Homo sapiens: one gene and its partners. The protein of the gene in region 5 interacts with the protein of the main gene of each other region in a biochemical or structural test. Each region holds a gene or a part of one and is shown on either strand. Other genes may lie near its edges. The genes, in order: PACSIN1, PSTPIP1, RIPK1, FRK, KHDRBS1, ITSN1 and SKAP2.

What was found.
Region 1: the proteins of KHDRBS1 (region 5) and PACSIN1 interact in a test that uses a peptide from one of them, tested with the Homo sapiens proteins (one study listed by BioGRID).
Region 2: the proteins of KHDRBS1 (region 5) and PSTPIP1 interact in a test that uses a peptide from one of them, tested with the Homo sapiens proteins (one study listed by BioGRID).
Region 3: the proteins of KHDRBS1 (region 5) and RIPK1 form a complex in vitro, tested with the Homo sapiens proteins (one study listed by BioGRID).
Region 4: the proteins of KHDRBS1 (region 5) and FRK interact in a test that uses a peptide from one of them, tested with the Homo sapiens proteins (one study listed by BioGRID).
Region 6: the proteins of KHDRBS1 (region 5) and ITSN1 interact in a test that uses a peptide from one of them, tested with the Homo sapiens proteins (one study listed by BioGRID).
Region 7: the proteins of KHDRBS1 (region 5) and SKAP2 interact in a test that uses a peptide from one of them, tested with the Homo sapiens proteins (one study listed by BioGRID).

The regions. Positions count from the first base shown.
Region 1 is NC_000006.12:34,528,576-34,532,075, forward strand, and holds part of PACSIN1 (protein kinase C and casein kinase substrate in neurons protein 1), read left to right. Parts: intron 1-66; coding exon 67-302; intron 303-821; coding exon 822-977; intron 978-1,090; coding exon 1,091-1,266; intron 1,267-1,667; coding exon 1,668-1,788; intron 1,789-1,884; coding exon 1,885-2,012; intron 2,013-3,024; coding exon 3,025-3,212; intron 3,213-3,500. UniProt on the Homo sapiens protein: Plays a role in the reorganization of the microtubule cytoskeleton via its interaction with MAPT; this decreases microtubule stability and inhibits MAPT-induced microtubule polymerization.
Region 2 is NC_000015.10:77,035,551-77,037,975, forward strand, and holds the end of PSTPIP1 (proline-serine-threonine phosphatase-interacting protein 1), read left to right. Parts: coding exon 1-13; intron 14-251; coding exon 252-385; intron 386-1,494; coding exon 1,495-1,626; 3' UTR 1,627-1,925; downstream 1,926-2,425. UniProt on the Homo sapiens protein: Involved in regulation of the actin cytoskeleton. May regulate WAS actin-bundling activity. Bridges the interaction between ABL1 and PTPN18 leading to ABL1 dephosphorylation.
Region 3 is NC_000006.12:3,109,994-3,113,493, forward strand, and holds part of RIPK1 (receptor-interacting serine/threonine-protein kinase 1), read left to right. Parts: intron 1-809; coding exon 810-962; intron 963-3,059; coding exon 3,060-3,346; 3' UTR 3,347-3,500. UniProt on the Homo sapiens protein: Serine-threonine kinase which is a key regulator of TNF-mediated apoptosis, necroptosis and inflammatory pathways.
Region 4 is NC_000006.12:115,970,392-115,973,891, reverse strand, and holds part of FRK (tyrosine-protein kinase FRK), read left to right. Parts: intron 1-3,500. UniProt on the Homo sapiens protein: Non-receptor tyrosine-protein kinase that negatively regulates cell proliferation.
Region 5 is NC_000001.11:32,041,123-32,044,377, reverse strand, and holds the end of KHDRBS1 (KH domain-containing, RNA-binding, signal transduction-associated protein 1), read right to left. Parts: intron 1,852-3,255; coding exon 1,754-1,851; 3' UTR 501-1,753; downstream 1-500. UniProt on the Homo sapiens protein: Recruited and tyrosine phosphorylated by several receptor systems, for example the T-cell, leptin and insulin receptors. Once phosphorylated, functions as an adapter protein in signal transduction cascades by binding to SH2 and SH3 domain-containing proteins.
Region 6 is NC_000021.9:33,771,501-33,775,000, reverse strand, and holds part of ITSN1 (intersectin-1), read right to left. Parts: intron 2,941-3,500; coding exon 2,678-2,940; intron 273-2,677; coding exon 123-272; intron 34-122; coding exon 1-33. UniProt on the Homo sapiens protein: Adapter protein that provides a link between the endocytic membrane traffic and the actin assembly machinery. Acts as a guanine nucleotide exchange factor (GEF) for CDC42, and thereby stimulates actin nucleation mediated by WASL and the ARP2/3 complex.
Region 7 is NC_000007.14:26,735,591-26,739,090, reverse strand, and holds part of SKAP2 (src kinase-associated phosphoprotein 2), read left to right. Parts: intron 1-212; coding exon 213-296; intron 297-3,500. UniProt on the Homo sapiens protein: May be involved in B-cell and macrophage adhesion processes. In B-cells, may act by coupling the B-cell receptor (BCR) to integrin activation. May play a role in src signaling pathway.

The DNA of each region.
Region 1 (3,500 bases), on a different chromosome or scaffold from region 5:
GAGATGTGAGGGGGGGCCTCTGGGCAGGGGCAATGAGGTTCTTGTGACCTATTGCCATTCCCTCAGGCCCACAGTATGGCAGCCTGGAGCGGGCCTGGGGTGCCATAATGACAGAGGCAGACAAGGTGAGCGAGCTGCACCAGGAGGTGAAGAACAATCTGCTGAATGAGGACCTGGAGAAGGTGAAGAACTGGCAGAAGGACGCCTATCACAAGCAGATCATGGGTGGCTTCAAGGAGACGAAGGAGGCTGAAGATGGCTTCCGCAAGGCCCAGAAGCCTTGGGCCAAGAAGATGAAGGAGGTGCTCAGTGGGTGCTGCCACGGGCGGGGTGGGGTGGGCCCGTCTGATCAGAGGGTGCTGATCCCAGGGAGGGCATCTATGGATGGGTGGGCTGGGCACTGCCCTCTGGGATTGTGCCCACAGGGGAGCAGCACTGCCTTCCAGGAAAAAATATTCACAGATGGGTAGGCAGTGCCCATTGGGTAAGGAGACCCATGGGCAAAAAGGGGCACTGTCCCCAGGAAAGATACCAGCAGGGGCAGAAGAGCACATTGGCCCCTGGGTCCCCAGATGGGGCGGGCACTGCACTGCCTGACAGGAGGGTATCTGCAGGGGAGCAGGCAGTGCCAAGCAGAGACGCAGCCACAAATGGAGGAGCGCTGCTCCCGAACACCTGGAGCCAGGGCCTGCATCCCTTCTGGCTCTTAAGAGTGTGGGCTCACAGGTCCCAGGGAGTGGGCAGGGGAGGAGTTAATGGGTGACCATGTTTGCTGCTGGTCACAAATGAAAACCCTACTCCCTATTCCCCCCTCCCCACAGCTGGAGGCAGCCAAGAAGGCCTACCATTTGGCTTGCAAAGAGGAAAAGCTGGCCATGACACGGGAGATGAACAGCAAGACGGAGCAATCGGTCACACCTGAGCAGCAAAAGAAGCTGCAGGACAAAGTGGACAAGTGCAAGCAGGATGTGCAGAAGGTGCTGGCGGGCAGGGATGGCAGTAGGGGGTCTGGGGGCCCCTTGCAGAGGGTGGTGGCTGGGAGCTGCAGGCCTGGCTAGGTGTCACCCTCTCTCCACTCTGGTGCCCACAGACACAGGAGAAGTATGAGAAAGTGCTGGAAGATGTGGGCAAGACCACACCCCAGTACATGGAGAACATGGAGCAGGTGTTTGAGCAATGCCAGCAATTTGAGGAAAAGCGGCTGGTCTTCCTCAAGGAGGTGCTGCTGGACATCAAACGGCACCTCAACCTGGCTGAGAACAGCAGGTACCTGGGCATGGCAGGCACCGAGGGCACAGGCACAGCCAGCAGATGGTGTGACTGGCATGCAGGGCATCCCAGCCCTCCATCACAGTGACGGGAAGGGGAGGCAGAGCTGCAGGGGTCAAGAAGGATGAGGCTTCAAACACAGGGGCTGTTGAGTGCAAGCTGACGCACACTGGGTACTCTAGAAACACATGCTGGATGATGGGTGAATGGCTAAGGTGGGAGGGAAAAGGAGTCCACCGAGCATGCCCGGAGCTTATTCTTGCAAAGCCCACATGATTCCTGGCTGGGCAGCATGCCCAGCACCCTGCTTCCCTGAGTGGACTCTGGCCTCTCACCAAGGTTGAGGAGGGGCCATGTTGAATCTGTGCCCTCCACCTCCCCCATCTCCCTGAGCACAGCTACATCCATGTGTACCGTGAGCTGGAGCAGGCCATCCGGGGGGCTGATGCCCAGGAAGACCTCAGATGGTTCCGCAGCACCAGTGGCCCCGGCATGCCCATGAACTGGCCCCAGTTTGAGGTGAGGATATGTGGGGATGGGAAGGGGAGCCTGAAGAGGCTGAAAGGTGCCTCAGGGCATAGTCCCCCAGCCTGACTGCTCCACTGGCCCCACCAGGAGTGGAACCCAGACCTTCCTCACACCACCACCAAGAAGGAGAAACAGCCTAAGAAGGCAGAGGGAGTGGCGCTGACCAATGCCACTGGGGCGGTAGAGTCCACATCCCAGGCTGGGGACCGCGGCAGGTGAGTGCCTCCTGTGGAGCTTCCTGGGGCCAAGAGGGACCCACACTCTGGGGCAGCTGAGTTTTGCTTCAGAAGACAAGAAATGGTCTAGATCATAGCAACTATGTCTCCTCTCTAAAAGATAGTGGTAGTTCATCACTCTAAAGCAGCCGTCCCCAATCTTTTTGGGACCAGGGACCAGTTTTGTGGAAGACAATTTTTCCACGGATGGGAGCGGGGTGGTTTTCGGATGAAACTGTTCCACCTCAGATCATCAGGCGTTAGATTCTCCTAAGGAACGTGCAACCTGGATCCCTCGCATGCGCAGTTCACAATAGGGGGGTTGCGCTCCTATGAGAATCTAACGCCGCGGCTGATCTAACAGGAGGTGCAGCTCAGGCGATAATGCTCCCTCGCCTGTCACTCACCTCCTGCTGTGCTGCCTGGTTCCTAACAGGCCACGGACTGTCTGCAGCCCCAGGGTTGGGGACCCCGGTCCAGATCACAGGAACCAAGCCTCCTCTCTAAAAGATAGTGGTAGCATATCCTTCTAGAGCACCTACTGTGTGTGGCACGGTTCTATGCACTTTCCATATGTTAACTCATTCATGCTCAAGTGCGTAAATATTACCATTTTACAGATGGAGAAACTGAAACCCAGACAGGTTAAGTGACTTGCCCAAGATCACATTGCTAGTTAGTAAACCTCAGAGCCAGATATGTTGCCCAGGAGGTCTGACTCCAGGATCCTTGCTCTTAAACATTAGGTGGTACTCCTCCTCCCGGATGAAGGCTCAGATGTGCCCTGGGGTCCCCTTCAATGCCCTCTCCCTCGAGGGCTGAATAATAACGCAAATGGTCCTGCATTTAAACATCGGTTTAAAGAGCTCATGAGGGTCACCCCTCCTATGTGGCCAATCCTTGCTCTAGCCTTGGTAGAATTCGGGATCAGGGCTCTGATTAGGAGGAGCGGTTAGCCCTCGGGATGCGGTACGGGGAGACATTGAAGCTGGCTCCTTCCTCCGCGTCTCAGTGTTAGCAGCTACGACAGAGGCCAGCCCTACGCCACCGAGTGGTCAGACGACGAGAGTGGGAACCCCTTTGGGGGCAGTGAGACCAACGGGGGCGCCAACCCCTTTGAGGACGACTCCAAGGGAGTGCGCGTGCGGGCACTCTACGACTATGACGGCCAGGAGCAGGACGAGCTCAGCTTTAAGGCCGGTAGGACGGCTGGGCGGGGCAGTGCCTGAGAGAGGCTTGGGCCTGGATTGGGTGTGTGGTGGTGCAGGGGCGGTGCCTGAGAGAGAAGCTTGGGTCTGGATTGGGTGTGTGGTGGTGCAGGGGCGGTGCCTGAGAGAGAAGCTTGGGTCTGGATTGGGTGTGTGGTGGGGCAGGGGTGGTGCCTGAAAGAGAGGCTTGGGCCTGCATTGGGTGTGTGGTGGGGTAGAGGCAGGATCTGAAGACGGGTTGCGAGGATTTGCAGGGAACTAAATGGGGCGTGGCCTGGGT
Region 2 (2,425 bases), on a different chromosome or scaffold from region 5:
GCAGCTTCTGCTGGTAAAGGGGGTCAGGAGGGGACCCCCAAACACACTGATCCTGGGGGGGAGGAGAGGTCTCCCACATGGCACAGATGGGGCCACTGAGGCCCTCAAGAGGAAGTGTGTGTCCCCCAACAGCAAGTGTGGACAGCAGAAGGAAGAGGCAGGGCCCAGCATGGAGAAACCCCATTCTAGTAGGACTTCCAGGGGCCAGTGTCCCCAGAAGGGGAGGGGTCTATGTCTCACCCTGCTCTTAGCGTCCACAGAGACCCTGACCCCCACCCCCGAGCGGAATGAGGGTGTCTACACAGCCATCGCAGTGCAGGAGATACAGGGAAACCCGGCCTCACCAGCCCAGGAGTACCGGGCGCTCTACGATTATACAGCGCAGGTGAGGCCTCTATACCCCAAACCCACCTGTGCCACCTCCCCTGCACCTGAGAGCTCCCTCTCCCATCCAGTGCCTTGCGTCCTCATCTCTCCTCATGGTTTCACTCATCTTCGAGCATCCTCTCCTCCTCAGGAGGGCACGTGTGCCCGAGTGTGTCCACACTAGCAAGGGTACCTGGGAGTGTGCTTGGATGTGAGCTCTGAGAACAGCACCCAGGGCTTGCGGGGCCTCAGTGTGCATGTACTGACTGGAAGCTGGTGTGCAGCAGGCCTGTGTCTGCCCGGGCCTGTACACAGCACACACGTGGAGCACATGTACCTATGCCGTCCACACAGGCTGGGCGCTGAGTGGTGCACACGTGCGGGGAGCTGGCAGAGCCTGGAGCTGCCTGCAGGTCATAGCTTGAGGGCCAGGCTCTGTGCCTTTGGGTCAGGGCCCTGTCCTTCGTGGCCATGGGTGTGGAAAACTGTGGCCAGAATGAGTCTTGCTATCGTGCCAGGATTGATTTTCTGATGTCCATAGGGTGAGGATGAACCAAGGCAGCCACAGGGCAGCTATGAGAGTCCTTTCTGCTCCCTGCTTGAGGGGAAGAATGCATAGCCAGACCTCACATCCACCTGGACTGAGGCCAAGCACCCCCACATAGCCAGGCAGGCTGGGTGTGGACTCCACTGATGAGGCCAGGGCTCGGGGAGGCAGGGAAGCCAGGCCAGGAGAGTGATGGGGTACTTGGATGGCAGTGGCTAGCTGGGGCTGGGGACCGCAAAGGGGAGGCTTGTGGTAAGCTTAGGCATGAGTGTGCCCTGGGCTTGGGGTATGATGAGCACCCGTGACCCCTGACATGCTCCAGTCACTGCGTCTCCAGAATGGGAGAGGGGAGGTGAGGCTGGGAAGAAACCCAGGTTGGGGGAGAACTATGATGACAAACTGAGGGGGATGGGAGGCCCGGTCCGTTGGGTTACCCCCATCCTGTGTCCCCAAGGGGCTGCCCCTGCCCACCCTGGGAGACATGCCGCATTTACTGCTGGGTGGGGGAACGCCAGGCCCCTCCCTGCAGGCCCTTCCCTGCAGGCCCTTCCAACGTCATGCGCTTTCAATCTCTTGGCCAGAACCCAGATGAGCTGGACCTGTCCGCGGGAGACATCCTGGAGGTGATCCTGGAAGGGGAGGATGGCTGGTGGACTGTGGAGAGGAACGGGCAGCGTGGCTTCGTCCCTGGTTCCTACCTGGAGAAGCTTTGAGGAAGGGCCAGGAGCCCCTTCGGACCTGCCCTGCCAGTGGAGCCAGCAGTGCCCCCAGCACTGTCCCCACCTTGCTAGGGCCCAGAACCAAGCGTCCCCCAGCCCCGAGAGGGAGCCTGTCGTCTCCCAGGGAATAAAGGAGTGCGTTCTGTTCTCCTTGGTGTGCTGGGGTCCCGTTCTCTTTTTCTCCTGCTCCAGTGTCCGAGTGCTCAGTTCAGAGGAGGCAAAGGAACAAGGGAAGGAGCCTGGATGTGGAGCTCCCCAACTCAGCCGAGGCTTCAGCTATAGTTGGAGAAGAGGCCTGGCCCCAGTTGCTAGGAGCTCCCAGACTGCCAAGGAGACACATTCACACCTGGACAGAGGACACAGGGGTGCAGGAGGATGTGGCAGGGGCAAGAAGGGGCTCAGCAGGGCTGCAATGGGGAGAGCAGGCTTCTTGGGGGCGGAGGGTTGAGCAGGTCCATGGCTGGGCAGCAGTGGCCAGGCCAGGGCAAGTGCGTGGGCAAAGGTGAGGTTGGGGGTACACCCAGGAATATTCGGAGGACTCAGTTTGGAAACAGGAAGCTGGTGATGGATCTGTTGGAGAGGCCATGGTGGGAGCCCAGGAAGACAGGCTTGTGGCTTGTGGGTGCAAGTGGGGCCTGGGGAAGCCACTGCTGCCCATGACACTCCCCTCAACATGGCAACCCCGGCCGAGCAGGGGTCCACAGCCCAGGCACGTTGGCCCCGGGCACAGAGGGAGCTGTTCTTGAAGGCCTTCAGCCCCTTCTCTTTTTAGTCCCAGGAACATAACTTTCAC
Region 3 (3,500 bases), on a different chromosome or scaffold from region 5:
TGTAGCTAGACCACAGTTGGGTTATCCACTCATCTGCTCATGGGTGCCTGGCTTACTTCCACCTTTTAGCTATTGTGAATAATGCTGCAGTGAACACGTGGGTAGAAATATTTCTTCAACACCCTGTTTTAGTTCTTTTGGGTATATACTCAGAAACGGAATTGCTGGATCATATGGTAATTCTATCTTTAATTTTTTTGAAGAATCACGATTTTTTTTTTTTTTTTTTTTTGAGACAGACTCTCACTCTATCACCAGGCTGGAGTGCAGTGGCACGATCTTGGCTCACTCTGCAAGCTCCGCCTCCTGGGTTCAAGTGATTCTCCTGCCTCAGCCTCCTGAGTAGCTGGGATTACAGGCACCCACCACCACGCCTGGCTAATTTTTGTATTTTTAGTAGAGAAGGGGTTTCACCATGTTGGCCAGGCTGGTCTTGAACTCCTGACCTCAGGTGATCACCTGCATCAGCCTCCCAAAGTGCTGGGATTACAGGTGTGAGCCACCGCACCTGGCCCACTATACTCTTTATAGGAGCAGCTGCACCATTTCACATTCCCACCAGCAGTGCACAAGGGCTTCATTTTTTCCACATCTTTGTCAATATGTGTTATTTCTTTTTTTTTTTTTAATCATAGGCATCCTAATGGGTATGAGGTGGTTTAGCCAGATTTGAAAGAAGAAAAGTTTAAAGGGTGGCATAGGATAATTAACTTAATGTTTGGCATAAAGCCCTGCTTTTTTGCCATGCTGTATTTTTTTCTCTTGCTTTTGATCTAGAATTACTTACCTGTGTGTTTCTCTCTATGCAGATGAATCTATAAAATATACCATATACAATAGTACTGGCATTCAGATTGGAGCCTACAATTATATGGAGATTGGTGGGACGAGTTCATCACTACTAGACAGCACAAATACGAACTTCAAAGAAGAGCCAGCTGCTAAGTACCAAGCTATCTTTGGTAAGATACCCTGGAAGGACTCAACGCCTAGCAACCTTGAACTTTCTTACTTGTGAGAAGGACATAGTGGAATCTTAAAATTTCTCTGATAATTCTTCTTGAAAGTTTTCTTATGTTACTTCTGCAAAATATCTTTGTAATTTCCATATAATTCCTTTGTCATTTATTTATTTTTAATATGGAGATAATCACAGTATTTAATTTATGGATTTGTTGTGAAAATTAAATGAGTTGATATGTATAAAAAGCTTAGAACACTGCCTGGCACATAGTAAGTTCTATAAAAAGTGTTAAACTTTCATCATCATCATCATCAGTATTACTTCTCAGACCCAGAAGAAATAGCTGTGTCAGGCCCTCATCGAAGGAGATCCTGTAAAAGATAGAAGACTGTGCCCTCCACAGCACTTCTGTAATAAAATCAAGAGGGCTATCTCTTATAGGGTTCTATGGTGCAGCCCATAATGCTAATCCCAAAGTACAGTCTGGAAAAAGTCATGAGGCCAAAACGACTTGATTAAGAACTCAGCTTTCTAATTAACCATGGGATTGGCGCTTTTTTTTTTTTTTTCTGTAAAGGAACCAATAGTAAATGTTAGGCCCTGCTGGCTTTGAGGTCTCTTGGAACTACTCACCTCTCTTATTGTAGTGCAAAAGCAACCACAGACAATATGTACATGAATGAGCACGGCTGTGTTCCAATAAAAGTGGATTTACAAATGCTGGCAGGAGTCAGATTTGGCCCACAGGCCATAGTTGGCCAACCCCTGGTCTAACCCATTTGAAGGACAGCTTTTAAAATACCTAGAACAGAACTTGCGAATGGTCAGGGGCACCTGTGAGAATCTAATGAAACCCAGGATCTACCCCCTACAGAAATATTGACAAAATTTGGAAAATATCTTGGGAAGTTCTTGGACTGCTGACAATCTATAAGATATGGATAGAGAGAGAGCCACATCACAGAGGGCTGAGGAAAGAAGAGAGGTGGGAAGGAAGAATGAAATGTTTTCTTCCTTATATTCTGTTTAATGAGGTAGTGTGGGGATTAAGGAATTTTTTTTGTTGTGGTTGTTGTACATTTTCATTTGTTTCCTTTTATTATTTTTATGAAGGGCGAAGGGAAGGAACCAGTAGAAGGAGAGAGGTTATGGCTATTGGAGAAGAGGCAATGTCGGTCGGCAGTGGGGTGGAGTAAAGGAGGGGTTAGGGTCCAAAAACAGACCTTGAAGAGTATAGTTACCTCGTCGCTTGAAAGACAAGGAAGGCTTTGTAACTGAATGGGTTCACGCCTGCTGGACAATTCCTTGATTAAGTAAGAGGAAAGTGAACTGTTGGGCCGGGGTGGTGGTCAGGAGTTGAGCGGCTTTAACTCTGGCCAGATGTAAGCGGAGAATGTCTAAAAGGAACAAAAATGGTGGTTTTCCCTTTACACCCAGGAAGGTCTAATACCAACAGGATCACTGGCTAAGATTGACTAGAACACCCAACCTCGTAGCCACACAGGGGTTTTGTTCACAGAGCCATCAGCTGTGGCTCAGGGATGTGTCTACTAGGAGGAAGGAATGCCTTATTCTTTTTTGTTTTGTTTTTGAGACAACATCCTGCTCTGTGGCCCAGGCTGAAGTACAGGGGCACAGTCATGGCTCACTGCAGCCTCGAACTCCTGAGTTCAAGTGATCCTCCTGTCTCAGCCTCCTCAGTAACTGGGACTACAGGCATGTGCCACCATACCCAGCTAATTAAAAAAAATTTTTTTTTTGGTAGAGACAGGTTCTTGCTGTGTTGCCCAGGACTGGTCTAGAACTCCCGGGTTCAAGTGATCCTCCTGCCTTGGCCTCCCAAAGTGTTGGGATTATAGGCATGAGCCACCACGCCAGGCCGGGAATGCCCTATTCTAATTCACATAAAGACTCCATGTGGGCTAGCAGGCATGTGAAATGTCTGCCAGTGCATCAACAGCTATATAACTAAGAAGTTATCTTTTTCACTGTCTTCTGGTACTCTTCATTTCACTTGGGTTTTTTAGCAATTCAGGAAGCTGGAATGTTTGAATGGGTTTTAGCTTGATACCTTCTTCTTTTTCCCATTTGGCAGATAATACCACTAGTCTGACGGATAAACACCTGGACCCAATCAGGGAAAATCTGGGAAAGCACTGGAAAAACTGTGCCCGTAAACTGGGCTTCACACAGTCTCAGATTGATGAAATTGACCATGACTATGAGCGAGATGGACTGAAAGAAAAGGTTTACCAGATGCTCCAAAAGTGGGTGATGAGGGAAGGCATAAAGGGAGCCACGGTGGGGAAGCTGGCCCAGGCGCTCCACCAGTGTTCCAGGATCGACCTTCTGAGCAGCTTGATTTACGTCAGCCAGAACTAACCCTGGATGGGCTACGGCAGCTGAAGTGGACGCCTCACTTAGTGGATAACCCCAGAAAGTTGGCTGCCTCAGAGCATTCAGAATTCTGTCCTCACTGATAGGGGTTCTGTGTCTGCAGAAATTTTGTTTCCTGTACTTCATAGCTGGAGAATGG
Region 4 (3,500 bases), on a different chromosome or scaffold from region 5:
TTGGCTTTTTTTTTTTTTTCTGAGACTGTGTCTCGCTCTGTTGCCCAGGCTGAATTGCAGTGGCACAATCTTGGCTCACTGCAACCTCTGCCTCCCGGGTTCAAGCAATTCTCCTGCCTCAGCCTCCTGAGTAGCTGGGATTACAGGCACATGCCAACACACCCGGCTAATTTTTTCTATTTTTAGTAGAGATGGGGTTTTGCCATATTGGCCAGGCTGGTCTTGAACTCCTGTCCTCAAGTGATCTGCCCACCTTGGCCTCCCAAAGTGCTGGGATTACAGGCATGAGCCACCATGCCCAGCCCTTTGTTGGCTTTTTTTAAAAATTTTTAAACATTATACTTTAAGTTCTGGGATACATGTGTAGCATGTGCAGATTTGTTACATAAGTATACGCGTGCCATGGTGGTTTGCTGCACCCATCAACCATCATCTACATTCGGTATTTCTCCTAATGCTATCCCACCCTTAATCCCACATCCCCCAACAGGCCCCAGTGTGTGATGCTCCCCTCCCTGTGTCCATGTGTTCTCATTGTTCAACTCCCATTTATGAGTGAGAACATGCGGTGTTTGGTTTTCTGTTCTTGTGTTATTTTGCTGAGAATGATGGTTTCCAGCTTCAGGAATATATTATGAGCTAAGCTCTATATCCTGATAGAAGTCCTCTATTTGATGATTATTATATAGGGCAATTAACACTGGCCTAAGAGTCATAGCCAGTAGGAATGGTAGCTTGACAAATCAGAGTGCAAGGATGTGTTCCAGATACACAAAAAAGTTTAAGAAAATGATATTGCTCTTGAAGGAACTAAATGGACTCTTGCCTTTTGTATTTTAATGTAAAGGAAAACATTAAAATTAATGAATGATATCACTGCTGAAAGTAACACATTTTCCTGAACACAGATGACATAATATTATTGTCGTGAACTGGAGGTGTGTCTTCTTAGACATTTAGATCTGCTGTGTGAAATCTGCTGGTTATAGAGCGTCTTAGAGTCACAAGGCCCCAAGTTGAATCCTGGCAGTGCCATCTACTGACTTTTATGAGTAGTAAAATGGACCTAATAACTACCTTATATGACTGTTAAAAGATTACAACAAAATAATGTAAAATCATGCTTAGCATGGTGTTTGGGTCAATACATGTGAATATAACAATGTTAAAATGGAGTTTTTGATTGAGGTTATTAAGACACAATAGAAGTAGAAGTTCAAAGTCAGATCTCCATACTCACAGTTGACAAAGGAATTGGTCAAAGATAGGTATGGCTGTTCTTGGATCTCTCAGCTTGTTAATAATTTAGAAAGGATACAAGGAGTGGAATGGAGGAAGAATTTGCTGATGGCATTTTGCTTTTGAAGAAAGCTGTTGGCACACTATGGAACCCCCTTTATTCCTGGGCTAATGAATGGGACCCCAAACCTAGTGAGAGGGTGCTTCAGGAAGGCCACTCTGAGAGCTAACTCTCCACCCTCTGCAGTTGGGAGGATAGAACACAGGTGCCTGACTCAGGTTGAGAAGGTGAAAGCATCCTGTGGAAGTAGGATAGAGGTAACTTAGGGCACCAGCTTCTCTCTCCTCCTAGTAATTGTCAGGGCAAGGGATGTGTAAATATTATCTCAGGACCATAAGTGGGTCTCCTAATGAGCAAAAGTGCCATGGCACTGTAGATGGACAGTCTGGAGGAGTTTTGGGTTTTGCCCAGGAAAGCTTCTGCTGGAGGATAAGAGGAGACCTATAAGGGAGAATGTGGTGGGAGAACTGCCCAGGAAACAGAAGCTGAGAGGCAATTGGGTGCAGGCATCCTAGAAATGTCTGCATCTTAGCAGCTGCAGTGAGGGTTCCTTTAGAGACAGGGAAGCCCCAAAGGGCCTGCATGAGTGTCCCAGAGAGGAGTCAGCTTCAGTTTCTGCCAGCAGGCTCGGAGTGGGAAGTTGACTGAGTGTGGCCTTCTCCTTCTTTACTCCCTCTTCTCTCTGCTCTTAGTCTGGATGCTCAGAGCCCAGCTGGGAAGGAAAAGTGGAGGAGCAGCTATAGTAGAGAAACAGAGAGGAAGGCACCCATACCATGTTTCCACTGCTGCCTTTTGCCTGAAGCGGGCCAGACCGAGCTGGGGAAGGAGAGAAGATTCGACATCTGATCACGTAGCAGTAGAGTGTTTTGGTTATCATCTGGGACTGGGCATCTAGGCTTGAATTGAGACACTGTTTGTGATTTTAAGTGGAAGTAAGACTGTCTAATACCTAAAAGTGGGCAGAAAAACTTTGCTGGAGCTTTCATCTAGGGACAGGGGAGTGTTATTCTCACAGACTACAAATTAAAGACCACTGGGAAGAACATGAAAGGTGTAGGCTTTAATTATTAGTTGTGCTTTTCTGTGTATTGTTTGCATTATTGTGGTTGATGCTGTGTTAGAAAGGTTACCTTCAAATTCAGTGTTGTACACCTAAAGTCTTGATTTTTGTTTGATATTTCCTTGCATTTTTCTGGCTTATAGCAAATACTCCTATAGTGCAAGTCAACTCAGTTATTTAGGAGGGCATTTTGTAGCCAGGTTTCTCACAGTGCTTACTAGAAAACTTATTTGCTTAAAGTTAATATTCTACGTGTATGTTACTGAGAATTTTTATACCCAGGGTGAAAATTAGGTAACATTTACTTTAATAACCTTCCATACTGAAATAATACAGCATGAACCATAATATAGCAGTTTGGAGACTCGATTCCCCATTTGTTCATAAAGAGAAGCAAAACACTGACATTTTAAAAGTATTCTTTTAAATTGAAGTGTGATACACATAATAAAAGTACACAATTCATAAAAATTTAGTTTGGTGAGTACAAAGTGAATTCATCCAGGTAACCAGCACCAAGTTAAGAAACAGAATAAGGTTAACGTCCCAGTCACTGACCCCTCATATCAATAGTTTTGCTTGTTTTTGATATTTATTTATTTACTTATTTTAGAGACAGTCTTGTTCTGTTGCCCAGGCTGGACTTGAGTATAGTGGCACAATCGATCATAACTCTCTGCAGCCTTGACCTTCTGGGCTGAAGTGATCCTCCTGCCTCAGCTTCCCAAGTAGCTGTGACTACAGGTGTGTGCCACCAATCCTGGCTAATTTAAAAACAATTATTATTATTATTTTTTGTTGAGACAGGGTCTGCCACCATTGCGTAGACTGGCTTGCAGACCTAGCCTCAAGCAATTCTTCCATCTCAACCTCCCCAGATGCTGTGACTAAAGGCGTGAGCCACCACGCCCAGCTTAGCCTTGCTTTTTAATAATGAGACTATATATTTGAGTTTGCGAGATTCATTCACTTTGTTATGTGTAGCTGCAGTTTTTGTTTATTTACAAATTTGCATTCCACTAGATGACAATTTTTTAGCTAATTCAATTGTTTTTTAGTTGATAAACATTTGGATAGTTCTATTTATGTGTTGATGAACATTTGGATTGTTTCCAGGTTTGAACCCTTACAAATCAGGCA
Region 5 (3,255 bases):
CAGCATTTCTGGGATTGAAAGAGAAACCCTCAAGGGCACCCAGAGTTGGCTGAACTGTCATGCCTAAAGGCAGATGCTGTCCCCTTCTGAGCTCACAGAAATTATTTGGTGTCACACTTTAGAGCCACCTAGGGGTTCTACAGAAGGTGCAAACCAGGCTGGCTTGCACTTTTAAATACTGAGACCTATCTATGGAAACCAATCCAAGTTTCAGCTCAGTTGAGTTGAAAACTCTCCATAAATTAGAATTTTTGATAGGATTGGATACAACAGCTTCCAACAACTTCCAGGGGGTGAAAAAGCTTTGGTTATTTTTAAACTAAAACTTAACAACTCCATCAACTTTTTTTTGGTAAACTTAAAATAAAATCCCCCCCACCACTTTTAAGAATGTTTCCAACTTTTAACAAGCCCATTAACTTTAGAGTTAATTTAAGTTTATTTGAAAGAGAAAACTATTTTATGGTCCACCCAAAAAAATGACAATTCATCACATTTACTTTGATTAAAAAAGGACTAAACTTTATTGACAAACTGCTGCAGACATTTTGACATAAGTTTAAGCTACCTATTTAGGCAGACTTACACATGTAGCATTTAATCTTCCGAGAACAAAATGGGAGGACGGTACAAATCCAATTAGGACTTTAACTTATGTACAAAGTGGATTTTGATTCCTTTTTCATTCAGCTGCAGTGTCCCTTTTTATATCATGCTAGTGTTGAGACATACTTGACTAACTTGGGAACAGTTCGATATATTGACAACCGTCAACTTAAGAAAATCAACAGCTTTTGGCCCCAGCGTCCAAGTGAACTTTTCATGGAGTGCAGAATCTCAAATGGACAAAATACTTTGTCTTTTTAAATACTGAAAATTTAATTATTAGTACTATGACTGAAAGATTCTTCATGGCTAAAAAGCTCTGCATCAAACTCAATTCAGGAGGCCTTCCCTCCCCACCACCATCAACCTCTTCAAAACCTACTCCCTCCCTCTAAGTATCTCTCAACACAGTATGTCTGGGGCTAGATTTCAAAACCCACGTAATGAAAAAGTCAGTTTTACAAGCCTAATTTTGTTGTTTTTTTTTTTATATCAATTAACGTTAAAAATTGCATCAACTATTTAATTCATGAGGATCTTTCATATTAAAATTTAACCTTAAGATTCAACCGCCATGTGCTTTTATAAAGGAAACATTTTTTAGAGACGTCTGAGCTCACTTTTACATGGTGGTGCCTACTGCCGTTAATGTTTGTGATTTTAAATCTTAAACAGCCCTGAATTTTGAAATGTAGCCTAGTTTGGGATTCTGCAACTACAACTTTACGGGATGCCTCAAATCAAAACTAAGAGAAACTTAACAAGCCTTTACTTCAGAACCTTTAAGCAAGCAATGTCATTTTTGAAACTAACAGGTTTGTGTGTTTTTTTTTTTTACTCAACTTCTTTTTTTTATTATAAAAGGTACACTTCTGTTTATATTTAAACAACAAAGAAAAAAGCATCTACACACTTAAAAAATTAATTCAATATTCCTAAATCTATTTTAACTCATTTTAAAATACTACATACAGAAGCCAGAATGCAGAGTTAAGAATGGAATAAGGTGGGGAGAAGAAGGGGACCACGAAGAAAAACACTTAGACAATTACTTGTCTGTTGTGGGTAAAGCAACAGGAATCCTGGGAGATACAAGAAATCAGTAACAACTTTGCTCATAACTGATATTTTCCCCTCATGTTTGTTTTTAATAACGTCCATATGGGTGCTCTCTGTATGCTCCCTTCACTGGCCTAGCAGGAGGGGCCTTCAGCGACGGCCTGGTCCCATTCCAGTCGTCCTGGCCTGTGGGGAAAACAAAGACAGTTTATAAACCATGTGGCGACAGCACTTAGGGATAAGCAGGGATAGGTCACATAGTAAAGATCACCAAAAACACTGAGTTTCTTCTAATGTCTTGACACTTCCCCTGGTGTTCCTTGCTCTCTACTTGGCTTGGCCCTCTTGGGCAGCCTGGGCAATTTTTCAGTTTTGAGTGGAAGGACAGAAGGGAACAAATCTAAAAAGGCTGCCATTGACTCTGGAGTAATCTCCCACAACGAGGTTCTTCATAGACAAATGTGATCTGTACGCCAGTCCCCAAACCTGGAGATACCCAACACCTTGCTTGAGATAGTGAGGAACTCATTAATCTTAGTGAGTCTGCAATGGCCTTTCCTGTTCCCAAAACAATTTGGCAGGCACCCTCAGGTAAGGTGGGAAGACTTCTGGAAGTCTTTCAGATTGGAAGCAGGCAGCCAGCCCCACTTCCATGCAACAGCAAGTCACGTTTCCTTACGGAGAAGTGTCCTCTAGCTCCCTGGGAAAACCAAGCAAGGGCCACTTTCCATGGGGCCCTCCACCAGCAGAGCTGATACTGCTCTCTCTGGTAGAGGGATGTGCAATCAAATGTTGCACTGACAGCACTGTTTAAGATAATTCCAAGGCTGCATGCGGTGGCTCACGCCCGTAATCCCAGCACTTTGGGAGGCCAAGGCAGGCAGATCACAAGGTCAGGAGTTCGAGACCAGCCTGACCAACAGGGTGAAACCCCATCTCTACTAAAAATACAAAAATTAGCCAGGCGTGGTGGCGCATGCCTGTAATCCCAGCTACTCAGGAGGCTGAGGCAGGAGAAGTGCTTGAACCTGGGAGGCAGAGGTTGCAGTGAGCTGAGATTGTGCCACTCCACTCCAGCCTGGACAACAGAGCCAGACTCCATCTCAAAAAAAAAAAAAAAAAAAAAAAAGGATAATTCCTTATCTCCTTTCTTAAGTCAACAGGTGAGAGAAGCCAGAAGCCAGACAATGTGGTTCACATCCTCAAATGGTTCTCCTTTGTGACAGGGAAAAGCCTGAGGAATATGATCACATAATTCTAGAGGTGACCTCTTATGAAAATAAATTGCGTTAAATTTATTCTTCCCACACCTTACACACGCTAGTTCATCCCTGAAGTATTTTTCCAGCTGCCTGTATTCACAAGTATCTGCCTCCATCTCTATAGGCCTCAAACTCCTATACAGATCTAAAGTCACACAGAACCCTAATTATACCCCTAGTATAACACACATGTCCATCACTTTCCAAGTGGCTTCTGGGTATCAACAAGACAGTTTCTTTTTCTTTTTTTCCTGACGTATACAGATCATCCTGGACAGTTTATTTCTCTAATTCTGTTAATCAAAGCAGAGATCAGAACGGATTAACT
Region 6 (3,500 bases), on a different chromosome or scaffold from region 5:
AAGTTTCCCTTCTAGTTGATGCTTTTTATCATTCTTGAACAAATGAAAGATAATAAAAATTATTACTGTTTTTAATGGTTCCATCTTAGTATATTTTCAAAGTATAACCAAACTTCACTCACTAGAGCTTCTAATTCAAATTCCAAAGTCTTTTTCTTTGCTTTCAGTACAACTATGTCCTCTTGTTCTTTGTTTCTTTGATTTAGTAGTTCTTGCCTTCGATTCCGTTCCCACTCAAGTTGTCGTTGCCTTTCAAGTTCCCGTTTTGCAGCCTGTGACATTTACAGAGACAAATTACTAATTTTTCAGTTCTTACACTACACAATGTCTTTTCACAAAAATGGCATCTAGGAAGTCTTTCCTTTTAGGGATGAAATATTAAACATTACAAGAAATCACATTAGAAAACAAAAAATTACATAAAAATACAGTATTCCTTCTATGGGAATAAAGGGAATACACAGAACTGGGTATTATATTTACATAATACTATATTTACGTAAGATGACAGGATTATTTCCCCATTAGAATTCCATTCTTTATGCCTTCAAGAATGCTTGATGTGCTAACTAAAAATGCTCCTTCTTATTTACTGACACGCCAAGAAGGAAAATTTATGTAGTAAAATCAAACTAAAACACCCCTGAACAAAAACAAACAAGAGTTGATTTTACTCCACCAAAAGAGAAATTATTACTTAACTCGTTTTAAAAGTCTGCGACTCCCCACTTCCTAATCATTCATTTCCTTTTTACCACAAAAGCTTTTGCTCCCTCCAACGACTGGCTCTGACGACTGCTAGATAGAGTACATATCAGAGCATCTGACAGTCTATGGGAATTGCCTCTGACTCATGGGTCATCCAACTACACCTGATACATGGTAAATGTCTATTAAATAATTCTGAATAAATACTCTAGAATATCATTTTTTTGGTACGTTGAAGAAAAGTTTGCCTATCTTTGTTCATTCTGAAAATTAAAATTTTGTTAGTGTCTGTCTGAACAAAAAGGAGTTACGGGGCCGGGCGCAGTGGCTCACGCTTGTAATCCTAGCACTTTGGTAGGCCGAGGCAGGCGGATCACCTGAGGTCAGGAGTTCGAGACCAGCCTGGGCAACATGGCGAAACCCTGTCTCTACTAAAAATACAAAAATCAGCCAGGCATGGTGGCTCACGCCTGTAATCCCAGCTACTCCGGAGGCTGAGGCAGGTGAATCACTTGAACCCAGGAGGTGAAGGCTGCAGTGAACTGAGATCGTGCCACTGCACTCCAGCCTGGGCAACAGAGCGAGAGTCTGTCTCAAAAAAAAAAAAAGGAGTTATGGCTATAAGTTTTGTTTCTTTCTTTTTTTGAGACAGGTTCTTGCTCTGTCACCTAGGCTGGAATGCAGTGGCCTCCAACTACTGGCCTCAAGTGATCATCCCTCCTTAGCCTCCCAAAGTGCTGGGATTACAGGCTTGAGGCACAGCACTCAGGCTATTTTTTTACATCGAAAAATTCCTCATTTTTATCTTTCATTCACATGAAAGAACCATGTGTTGCTTCTGCAGTAATGTACTAAAATTGGAAAGAGAGACAAGATTTGCTTAGCCCCTTTCCAGGTATGGCGCTAAATTTACGAAGCCTTCCATAGAATATAGGGAGGATGTCCCAGACATATTTTTAAAAGAGTTTAAAAAGAAGGTTGCATGGGCCAGGCGCGGTGGCTCATGCCTGTAATCCCAGCACTTTGGGAGGCTGAGGCGGGTGGATCACCCGAGGTCAGGAGCTCGAGATCAGCCTGACCAACATGGTGAAACCTCATCTCTACTAAAAATACAAAATATTAGCTGGGCGTGGTGGCGGGCACCTGTAATCCCAGCTACTCAGGAGACTGAGGCAGGAGAATCGCTTGAACCCAGGAGGCAGAGGTTGCAGTGAGCTGAGATCATGCCACTGCATTCCAGCCTGGAAGTGACAGAGCGAGACTCTGTCTCAAACAAAAAAAAAAAAAAAAAAGAAGATTGCAGAACAATGTAATTGGTATGATACTATTACAGTGGTTTTTAAAAAATTATACAGCCCTTACACTCTCCGCCATATAAACCTTTATATTTTTATATAGGTGTATACAGAGAAAACAGTCTGGAAAAACACTTTACTGGTATCAGTGGTTTGTTACAAAATTGTATCATCAAAAACTTGTACATTAATGTTCATAACATCATTGTTTATAATAGCCACAATGACCATCAACTGCTGAATGAATTAAAAAATGTGGTATACCCATATAACGAAATATTACTCAGCCATAAACAGGAATAAAGGACTGATTCATTTTACAATGTGGATGAACCTTGAAAACATTATGCTAAATGAAAGCCAGAAACAAAAGTCCATATATTGATGATTCCATTTATAAAAAATGTCCTGAATAAGTAAATCTAGAAAGATAGAAAGTAAAATTAATGATAGGAGCTGGAGGGAGAAAGAAATGGGGAGTAGCTGCTTAATGGGTAAAGAGCTGGAGTGATGAAAATGTTCTGGAATTAGGGACGATGGTTGCACAACTTTGGGAATATACTAAAACTACTGAATTGTAAAAAGACAAAGATGGCGTGAATAGATCACTTGGATAATTCTGAAAAGGGGTGATCGCACACTAACTCCGGGTGGCTCCACTCTCGCCTGCTTACCTCTCGCCTCTCAATTTCTTTCCTCCTCTCCTCCTCTCTCTGCCGTTCTAGCTCCCGCTGCTTTTCCAGTTGCTTCTCCAGTTCCAGTTGTCTTTTGCGCTCTTGCTCCTGGCGCTCACGCTCCTTCCTCTCCTGCTCCGCCCGCTCCAGCTGGGCCAGGCGCTCCTGCTCCTTGCGCTGCTGTTCCAGGAGAGCTTGCCTTCGTTTCTCCAGTTCCAGGTTGCCACGTTCAAAGTTCTCCCGCTTCTTATCTTCAAACGTTACTTCAGACAAGGAACACAGCAACTATGAAAACTCAAGATTTTCAACGGACTCTTTTCAAAGGAAAACTCACCAATGTATTTGAAATTTGTAGTACAAACCCAAACCCAGAACTCCCTAAGCTTCTGTGTCCTTGTTAATGAGCACAACGAAAACCCCCTTTGCCTAACCTCTCTGTTTATATCTTCTCCTCCACGCCAAACACTGTTTCTAAAAGATCCTTATCTAGCAGTTCTACATCACCATCCAGACTCCTTTCCTTCCCTGTTACTCCATCCTTTCCCTTCTTCCCATGAGCTTGCCCTAGGAATTAACCCCCTCTCTTCTGGACCATGAGTCTCTGTCTCTCTCCCTCCTTCCCTTTGCCTTGTAACCGTGCTGATGAGTCCTCTATTCTAACAAGATTTCTCAAAGCAGAGTGAAAGGTGAGCATTCGGCTTTTCACACTGAAGAACAAGCTGTGCCCTGATCCCTATGGAGATCACAGTCAGTCAACAATTTTTTCTAACCCATTATTCAGTTTCCTTCTTTAACACATCAATTATAAATTTAGAATGATTAC
Region 7 (3,500 bases), on a different chromosome or scaffold from region 5:
GTTGATCCCATAAGTATGGCAGCCCCATAGCTACTTTACTTTATTCCCTTTAGCTGTGTTGGTTTGTTGTTGTTTGGTTTTTTGTCTCTTGGAAAAGAAGATACAAATTAGTCACACAATGTTAGAGCTCAGAGGAATCTTAGAAATCATATTAATTAACTTTTTCTTTTACAGTAAGGAAATGGCCTTACATTTTCCCCTCTTTATTGCAGATCACAGCTTTCTGGGATTTGAATGGCAGAAACGGTGGTGTGCTCTCAGTAAAACGGTATTCTATTATTATGGAAGTGATAAAGGTAATGTTGGTGTTCAATTATATCAACTACTATTGCAAAAGAATTTTTGGCCATCCCTTCCCCCTCTTTTGAGTACAGAGTAAACTGAAGACAAACTAATAATAACTGAGAATTATAACAATTATAATCTGACTAATTTATGATTCATTTCATTATTTGACAAATGCTCCAAATACCAGAATACCCTCAGAGCTAAAACAATTGTGTTGTATTGAATTAGAAAAGAGAGTAAAATAACTTTAATCTGTGTGGCCTTTCACCTTAGGGAATATTTATTATCCAGCCTACTGTTGTAGAATTTCTGGAAAAGTTAAGAACATAGGGTTGTGAGAGTTTCAATGGCAGAAAATAGATTATTTTTCTTAAATATTTTAAAATAAAATTAGATAAAATTAAATACGAACAGCACCTTTCTGAGCTCCCTTTACAGATTTAAGGAATAACAGCAAACGTGTACATAGAATTTACTATATACTGGGCACCGTTCTAAGCACTTTGTCTAAGTACGTTAGCTATGTTAACTTGTTTAGCTCACAACAACTCTGTAAGTACTATTATTAGCACCATTAATTTGACTTTTAGGAAAACTGAGAACAGAGAGGTTAAGTGACTTGTTCAAGGTCACAGAGTTGGAAAATGGCAGATCTAGGAATTTGTTTTTCCTTTGTTTTTAGAAACAGGGTCTTGTCTCGGTGCCTAGGCTGGAGAGCTGTGACTGTTCACAGGTGTAGTCATCACACCCTGCAGCCTCAAACTCCTGGGCTCAAGTGATCTTCCTGTCTCAGTCTCCCAGGTAGCTGGGATTACAGGTGCACACCGCTGTACCCAGCTCAAATTTGGGATTTTAACCTAGAGAATATGGTTAGAGTCCATGTTCTCAACCACTATTGTCACTACATTAATTTAGAAATAATAGGATACATTTTATAACTTCATTGTTAATTAATAAATCTCTCAGTTGTAGTTCACATAATTTTAAGATTGTTATTTGAACAAATAAAGCCACCAAATAATGAAATTTAAAGATTGTAAGCTTTCTGAGTTTTGTTTTATTCTGGGGAAAACAGGCTAGGAGTTGAATATTATAAAGTAAAGGTTGTATCAAAATAGATAATGTTCATTTCCAGAAAGGACACTTTAAGAAGAAAAAGGCAAAAGTATCACTGAATGTAAGCTTTCCTATGGAATTGTTATCAGTGTTGTTTGGAAATTTATGTTTTATTTGACATTATTTATAGTTTTTAGAGTTTTTTCCCCCATTCTAAAAACATACAGGTAAGATTGTCATATTTCAGATAAGTCTGAAATACTTACATAATGCTGGAAGTTGTTCTTACCTTTTGGCTAATGAGATTAACAAATTAATTAATTTAGTAGCTAGTTTGCATTCCATCACTAATTTACAGTATGTTCAGATGTAGTAATGGCATCAGTGAAGTGTAAACTGTAAACAGCTATAAACAAGCATCTTTCTTCTGCTAAGGGTCAGTAGTGAAGTAGGTCAGAAAATTTAGAGTCCAAGTTCAGTTACGATTATCACAGATCATAGAAATATAGTTTTGTATGATATTGTGAATTTAGATCGAGATACTACCTTCCACAAAATATCCTCTTTTTCACCAGACCAGGGGAGGGAGGTTTCAGATCCTTGTGACTTTGATTCAATTAGGCTTCTCATTTCTAATTTCTTTAAGAATCAATGAATACTAATGTCAGTGTTTCCTCCATTTCTAGTCCTGACTGGCATATAACAATGGTTAGGTCAAAGATTAGCAAGAGTTTCCCCAAAACCCAAAGCGTGTTAATATTTACTTCAAACACTAATATATTCAATGAAAACATTTTAGTTAGAGTTATTTAGATATTAGTTACATTCCTTTTTTTTTTTTTCTTTTTAGAGATGCGGGGGCCTCACTCTGTCACCCAAGCTGGAGTGCAGTGGTGCCATCATAGCTTACTGCAATCTTGAATTCCTGAGTTCATTTTTATTCTTATTTGATGAGACCTAATGGTAGTAACATTGTTTGTAATTTGCATTTTAACTACTTTGTGATCCATTTAGCCCTTTCTGTCATTTCTGTTACTGGAAGGGGGTCTTGATCCAGACCCCAGGAGAGGGTTCTTGGATCTCATGCAAGAAAGAATTTGAGGCCAATCCGTAGAGGGAAGTGAAAGCAAGTTTATTAAGAAAGTAAAGAAACAAAAGAATCACTACTCCATAGGCAAAGCAGAGCATAGGCTGCTCAGCTGCTTACACTTATTGTTACTTCTTGATTATATGCTAAACAGGCAGTGGATTATTCATGAGTTTTCCTGAACTGGGGTTGGCAATTCTCAGAACTGAGGGTTTCTCCCCCTTTTTAAGCCATATAGGGTAACTTCCTGATGTTGCCATGGCATTTGTAAACTATCATGGCACTGGTAGGAGTGTCTTTTAGCATGCTAATGCGTTATAATTAGCATATAATGAGCAGTGAGGAAAACCAAAGGTCATTTTCATCACCATCTTGATTTTGGTGGGTTTTGGCCAGTTGCTTTCCTGCATCCTTTTATCAGCAAGGTCTTTGTGATCTGTACCTTGTGCCAACCTCCTATCTCATCATGTGACTAAGAATGCCTAACCTCCTGGGAATGCAGCCCCCATAGGTCAAAGCCTTATTTTACTCAGCCCCTATTCAAGACGGAGTTGCTCTGGTTTAAAAGCCTCTGACACTTCCACTTTAAAAAAATTACCATTTTAGCATTCCTTTTTCATGTTGATGTCTGAAGATGTGGCTTGTGTTTCCTTAAATTTTTCCCTTTTACTTTGCAGCCTCCTGTTTCCAGTGAAATTTTAGATTTGTTTCTTGTGGTTCTTTTTTCTATTGGCGGTTTCATTCGAAATTTTTAGCCAGTTCCTCTCTTTTAAGGGACTCCAAAAAAAGATCTGTCTTTAGACAGTTTTTAATTACTTGTTTGGCATGATCCCGATTTCCTTCCTTTATATCTTTTTCTTACCAGGAAAATATGTCAAATAATTTTTTTCTTTTGTGAAATTAGATATGATTTTTTATAGCCTTGTTTACTGTATGTGTGAACCATTTACCTAATGGGAAGAACTCATATCTAGCTATATGAGAACTATAATCCTCCAACTAAGTAGGATTTAGATAAATGGATTATAGAGGCACAGAAGGAGTTGACACCACTTACTAGGTTAAACTG